Linked DNA regions of Homo sapiens. The protein of the gene in region 1 purifies or fractionates together with the protein of each later gene. This does not show direct contact. Each region holds a gene or a part of one and is shown on either strand. Other genes may lie near its edges.

Evidence for each region.
Region 2: the proteins of STAM2 (region 1) and KIF15 fractionate together in Homo sapiens (co-fractionation; one large-scale study listed by BioGRID). This does not show direct contact.

The regions. Positions count from the first base shown.
Region 1 is NC_000002.12:152,169,264-152,172,763, forward strand, and holds part of STAM2 (signal transducing adapter molecule 2), read right to left. Parts: intron 1-3,500.
Region 2 is NC_000003.12:44,792,794-44,796,293, forward strand, and holds part of KIF15 (kinesin-like protein KIF15), read left to right. Parts: intron 1-1,423; coding exon 1,424-1,633; intron 1,634-3,500. UniProt on the Homo sapiens protein: Plus-end directed kinesin-like motor enzyme involved in mitotic spindle assembly.

The DNA of each region.
Region 1 (3,500 bases):
GTTTTTGGTTTCGTTTTTTTGTTTTGTTCGGGAGACAGGATCTGGCTCTGTCACCCAGGCTGGAGTGCAGTGATGCAATCATGGCTCACTGCAGCCTCAACCTCCCTAGCTCAAGCCATCCTCCCACCTCCATCTCCCGAGTAGCTCGGACTACAGGTGCGCGCCACCATGCTCAGCTAATTTTTGTATTTTTTGTAGAGATGGGGTTTCATCATGTTGCCCTGACTGATCTCGAACTCCTGAGATCAAGCAATCCACCAAGTGTTTGGATTGCAGGTGTGAGTCACTGCACCCTGCCATCAATTTTTAAAAAGTAACCCAACAGAATAATAAAAGTAATGAGCAGGCAATTTATAGAAAAAGAAAACAGAATGATGAAGAAACATATGAAAAAATGCTCATCTTCACTGGCAATGAAGTAGAAATAGAAAATGAAATGAAAACAATGTCTTACTTCATATTCATCAGATAGGCATAAATTAGAAAATCTGACAATGCTCAGCATTAGTGAGGATGTGGAACAACAGGAATTTCACTGCTGACAGGAGGGAAATCAACAAACACTTGGAAGGGCAACTTTGCAAGAGCTACACTTTTTTTTTTTTTTTGAGATGGAGTCTCACTCTGTTGCCCCAGCTGGAGTGCAGTGGCACAATCTCCGCCTCCCAGGTTCAAGTGATTCTTCTACCTCAGCCTCCCGAGTAGCTGAGATGACAGGCATTCACCACCACACTCAGCTAAGTTTTGTATTTTCAGTAGAGACACGTTTCATCATGTTGGCCAGGCTGGTCTCAAACTCCTGACCTCAGAAGATTTGTCCACCTCAGCCTCCCAAAGTGCTGGGATTACAGGCATGAGCCACCACACCAGGCCAAGAGCTACACTTCTACTGAAGAATTCCCCTTCAAGACGACAACCTTTAAGAATTTTGCACTCCACTGGGCACAGTGGCTCATATCTGTAATCCCAGCACTTTGGGAGGCCAAGACGGGCGGATCACGAGGTCAGGAGTTCGAGACCAGCCTGGCCAACATGTGAAACCCCGTCTCTACTAAAAATACAAAAAAAAATTACCTGGGCATGGTAGCAGGCGTCTGTAATCCCAGCTACTTGGGAGGCTGAGGCAGGAAAATCATTTGAACCTGGGAGATGGAGGTTGCAGCGAGCTGAGATCGCGCCACTGCACTCCAGCCTGGGTGACAGGGCAAGACTCCGTCTCAAAAAAAAAAAAAAAAGAATCTTGCACCCATAAACACAAGAAAACATAGATAAAAACTTTCAATACAGAGCTGTCTGTAGGTGCAAGAAATTGAAAACAAAGTCATGTTCGTCAATAGGACAACAGATAATGCATATTCATATAGTAGTATAGTATCACGCAGCCATTAAAATTTATAACCTAGAGCTACAAACATCAACATGAATAACTCTCACGAAGAAATGCTGAATGGGCCAGGCACGGTGGCTCACGCCTGTAATCCCAGCACTTTGGGAGGCCAAGGCAGGCAGATCACCTAAGGTCAGGAGTTCGAAACTGGCATGGCCAACATGGCGAAATCCCATCTCTGCTAAAAAATGCAAAATTAGCCGAGCATGGTGGTGCGCACCTGTAACCCCAGCTACTCGGGAGGCTGAGGCACAAGAATTGCTTGAACCTGGGAAGCAGAGGTTGCAGTGAGCTGAGATTACACCACTGCACTCCAGCCTGGGCGACAGAGCAAGACTCCGTCTCAAAAAAGAAGAAATGCTGGATGACAAAAGTTGCAGAATGACAAAAAGACACCATTTTTAAGAAGTTTAAAAACATCCAAACAATATATAGTATATTTGTAAGTGTAGTATTATACTATTAAAGAGAATTTCTATCTATTTATAGAGTGTTTAACTCGGAGAAAGGAGGAAGAATGGGATCAGGTAGCTGCTAAAAATACTAAAGTATTTCACTGCATCTTGAATGTTCCTTTCTTAAAAAAAAAGAATCAAGTATATCAAAATATTAGCACTTGACATAATTGCCTGGCAGGAATGGGAGTTCATATTTTCTATTTTATGCTGAAAATATTTCATAGTTTAAAAAGCTACAAAATATATTAGAAAAAAAACTGGCTGTTAAGTCTACTATTCTTATTCAAAACCAAAAAACTTTTTAAAAAAATTTTTACTTTTACAAAGATTTTAACTTATTGTACAAAGAGTGGCCTAGTTAAGTAAATGTTATAAATTTGTGTGTATGTTATGAATTTATATTATTCTTATGCTATCAATATCTATTTTTATATTGGGATTTCTTATAAAATTTCACTGGAGAAAAGGACTGCATGACTGCATTTCACTGGAGAAAGTCCCAAGCTACTTCCTGGTCAACTTCTTCTAACACAGCAAAAGTCAGAAACACAGCAATACACACATTAAAATGTCACTTGGAAATGTATTCTCTTAAAAGCTAACAATTCAAACCACTGCGTCCACAGAGTTTTGTAGAGGTAGAATTTGAGCTCAGCTTTGTGGGACACAAGCGTATCTTTAAAGGAAATACCAAGGTTGAAAAGAGCAAACATTTAGCAATGAATGGTAAATAGCACAGAGGCAGAAAACTGGCAAGAAAGATTGCCTGGCTTGAGTAAAGGGAAAAAAGATATGCAAACAAGAACCGGAGTTAAGGCTTAGAACAGACAAGTCATGACTTGGAAATCAATGAATAAGGAAATGACATCTTCTCTGTTAACACTAACCACTGTGGCCCCGTCCCCCATGTTTCACTTTCCCCTTGGAATTCTACAAGAATGGCTACTCCAACCAGGCTCTACCTCAAGATCCCTGTACCCCTCTAACACTTGAGGCCCAGCTGGGGAGAAGAGGTGGGACCTAAGGATATTTTCTTTTTTCCCCTCAGAACACATCAAAGAAATCTTATTAAACAAAACAAAAAAATGAATCTAGATAAAATGTTTAAAGAGTTCTAACACTACCAAATCTAGTATATCCTTCAGGGCTTGTAGGTTCTGATGCCAAGAAAAGACAGGAATTTGCCAGAGTTCCCTACTTCCTAGCCTTTGGCCTGCTTCCATTTGACAAGTCACATATCATCATCAATTCATGAGTGCCTTCCTAAGACATCTTGACCCATCCTTTTCTCAGCCCCTGAGAAAAGGATTCCTTCCTCATATGACTGTCAGAAAGACTGCTCACCCTCCTGCAAGACTCTTCACCTACCAAAAGAGATTAATCTTTAAAGGCCTTTAATCATAAAATGACCATATCATACATTAGCAAAAGGTGGTTACTTCCTGTTGGGAAAGTGCTATCAGAGAAGGGGGGGAGGAGGCTGGGCACAGTGGCTCACGCCTGTAATCTCAACACTTTGGGAGGCCGAGGCGGGCAGATCACTTGAGGGCAGGAGTTCAAGACCAGCCTGGCCAACATGGTGAAACCTCCATCTCTATTAAAAATACAAAAAATTAGCCAGGTGTGGTGGTGCGCACCTGTAGTCCTAGCTACTC
Region 2 (3,500 bases), on another chromosome or scaffold:
CCTGGGCCTCCCAAAGTGCTGGAATTACAGGCGTGAGCCACCGTGCCCTGCCAACAGCTATGATTTATTGAGTGAAGGTGCCAAGCACTGTGCTAACTTCTTTTGTATACATTATTTTACTTAATTTTCAATATGCCCTTTGAGATAAAGACACTAATTTCCCCATTTTACCCTATATATACTGTTACCCTCCTACCCAAAATGTGGTCCTCAGAACATCAGCATCACCTGAGAGCTTGTTAGAAATGCAAAATCTCAGGCCCCACCTCACACTGAATCTGAATCTGAATTTTAACAACATCTGTAGATGATTCATATGCACCTAAAACTTATATGTTCTGTTCTATGGGATAGGTACCCATATTCCCATTTTACAAATATGAAGGCTGAGGCTTGAAAAGGTTCAGCTGGCCCCAGACCTCGCCTAGTAAATAGTGGAGCCATGGTTTGAACTCATATGCATCTGATTCCAGAGCCTGCATTCTGAACTTTCATGTATCCTGCTTGCCATAGGGAATAGAAGGGAAAAAATACTTTGTAGACCAAAAGCTTACAAAACTTTGGGCTTAAAGATAATTTACAGATTTTTCCTGTCCAACATTCTCATTTTCTAGGTAAAGAAATGGGTTCAGAGAGGTTTTGTGATTTACATTAGGTTAACACAAATAAAGCGTGGCAAAACCAGTTCTAGATCCTATGCGCTCTGATTTCCTGTTTGTTCTGTTTCTGTAATGTGGAAAGGGAACACAAAGGAAAGGAAAATAACTTCAGCTTATTCCTTAATGGACCAGTAATCTTTCTCACCACCCTTTACAAATTTCCTACTGATTTTGGTGGCTGTTGTGTACCATTTGGAACTTGGGATAATATAATTTATCTTATAAAGCTAGATAACAATGGAAGGCAATAGATACTCCTCACCCCTGTTCTAAATAGAAAATATGCTTTATGTAAATATATTTCTTTTTCCCTATGAAAGTAGATAATTAGCTGTATGTTAGTATTTTTCATAATAAAATGAGTGATTCTCAAGTGCTTATTTTACATTTTAAGTGTACCTATTCTTGTTCCTTTTTTTTTCTCTTTTCCTTTTTTTTTTTTTTTTAAGATAGGATCTTGCCCTGCTGCTCAGGCTGGAGTGCAGTGGCACAATCATGGCTCACTGCAGCCTTGAATTCCTGGGCTCAAGAGATCTTCCCACCTCAGCCTCCCGAGTAGCTAGGACTACAGGTTCCTGCCACTGTACATAGCAAATTATTATTTTTTGTAGAGGTGAGGTCTCACACTATGTAGGTCAGGCTGGTCTTGAATTCCTATCCACAAGTGATCCTCCAGACATGGCCTCCCAAACTGCTAGGATTACAGGCATAAGCCACTGTAACTGGTCCTCTCATTTCTTTTAATATGTTTTCCTTTTGCATAGGTGTTGTCTGGAGGATGGAGGAATAGACGTGTGGCATCAACATCAATGAACAGAGAATCGTCTAGGTCTCATGCCGTCTTTACAATTACAATAGAGTCAATGGAGAAAAGTAATGAGATTGTGAATATACGGACCTCCCTACTCAACCTGGTGGATTTAGCAGGATCTGAAAGGCAAAAAGATACCCATGCAGAAGGGATGAGATTGAAGGTAAGAATGAAATTATGGTCTTCAACTTGTGTGTGAGTTCTTACTAGCAGTCAATACAGTCGTGATGCATGACAGTGTCTCAGTCAATGAGGAACTGCATTTATGATGGGGGTCCCTTAAGAGTATAATAGCTATACCACATGGCTTAGGTATGTTGTAGGCTATACCATCTCGGTTTGCATAAGTATATTCTATGATGCCCACAAAACAATCAAATTTCCTAACAGCACATTTCTTAAAATGTACCCCTGTTAGCCGGGCGCGGTGGCTCACACCTGTAATCCCAGCACTTTGGGAAGCTGAGGCAGGTAGATCACGAGGTCAGGAGATCGAGACCATCCTGGCCAACGTGGTGAAATCCCGTCTCTACTAAAAAAATACAAAAGTCAGCTGGGCGTGGTGATGCGCGCCTGTAGTCCCAGCTACTTGGGAGACTGAGGCAGGAGAATCACTTGAACCTGGGAGGCCGAGGTTGCAGTGAGCTGAGATCGCGCCACTGCACGCCAGTCTGGGTGACAGAGAGAGACTCTGTCTCAGAAAAAAAAATGTATCCGTGTTGTTAACTGATATATGACCATACCAAGCTAAGTGTTTTGAGGGTGGCAAAGAAATAAGAAATTGTTCCTATTGAAAAGGAACAGAGATTTCTTTTGTGGAACAGTGAACATAGATGGGATAGGGCAAGTCTGTCAGTAGCAAAAATGTTTTAATTCATACCAGAGGGGATAAGGGTACAAGAGACAACAGGGGTCAGAGGAAGAAGGGTGCAATATGGACTGCTTGTGGAACATGTGGAAAAGAAGTAGTTCTTGACTTGTGAAGGATTTCGGTAGGGAGAGAGAAACAGGAAATGCATGCCTGGCAGGGGGGCATCTCAAGGGTTATTGTGGATGCAGAATGAGTGTAGCATTTGGCATTTCAGCATGGCTCAATGGATGGGTTGGTTAGAGAGGCAAGCAGGCCCGGATTATCAAGGACCAGGAGTGCCAGGCCAAGTTTGTATCAACTCTGCGAATACTGGGAAACACTTAACATTTCTTAGCAACTAAGTGATTCATGAAGAAAGCCTGTTTTATAGAAACTTAGTCATCTGACCCACTGCTGTTAAGATTTTAGAAGGGAGAGCCCACAGAAAAAGATGACCACTTACGCTGTTTAATATTTCAGGTATGAAGGGTTAAGTATCTAGTCCTAGGCTAAGGTATCAACAGTGGGACCAGAGGTTCTATGTAATATGTATTGTCAATATGTGTTTATATATATATATATATAGTAATACGAATTGTCAATAAAATATTTGTAGAGTCTATAGTTTAGAATATACATGGGCAAGGGGAGAGGAATTGGAAAGGATGAGGGAAGAGATCTACTTTTTTCATTAAAAGTGAGGATTTGAGTCGCCTGACCTACATTTGAGGCAGTTTCAGGCAATCTGAAGCTCATATTTTTTTGTTTTGAGACAGTCTCACTCTGTCACCCAGCTGGAGTGCAGTGGCATGATCTCGGCTTACTGCAACCTCTGCCTCTCTGGTTCAAGCAGTTCTTCTGCCTCAGCCTCCCAAGTAGCTGAGATTACAGGCGCCCACCACCACACCCAGCTAATATTTTGTATTTTTAATAGAGATGGGGTTTCACCATTTTGGCCAGGCTGGTCTTGAACTCCTGACCTCAGGTGATCCACCCTCCTTGGCCTCCCAAAGTGTTGGGATTACAGGCGTTAGCCACCACGCCCAGCCTAAAGCTCATATTTCTATTGAGATATGAGGCTTAATAAATATAGCATATGGGTTGAGCATGGTGGCTTATGCCTGTAATCCTAGCACCTGGGAGGCTGAGGTGGGAGGATCCCTCGAACCCAGGAGGTCGA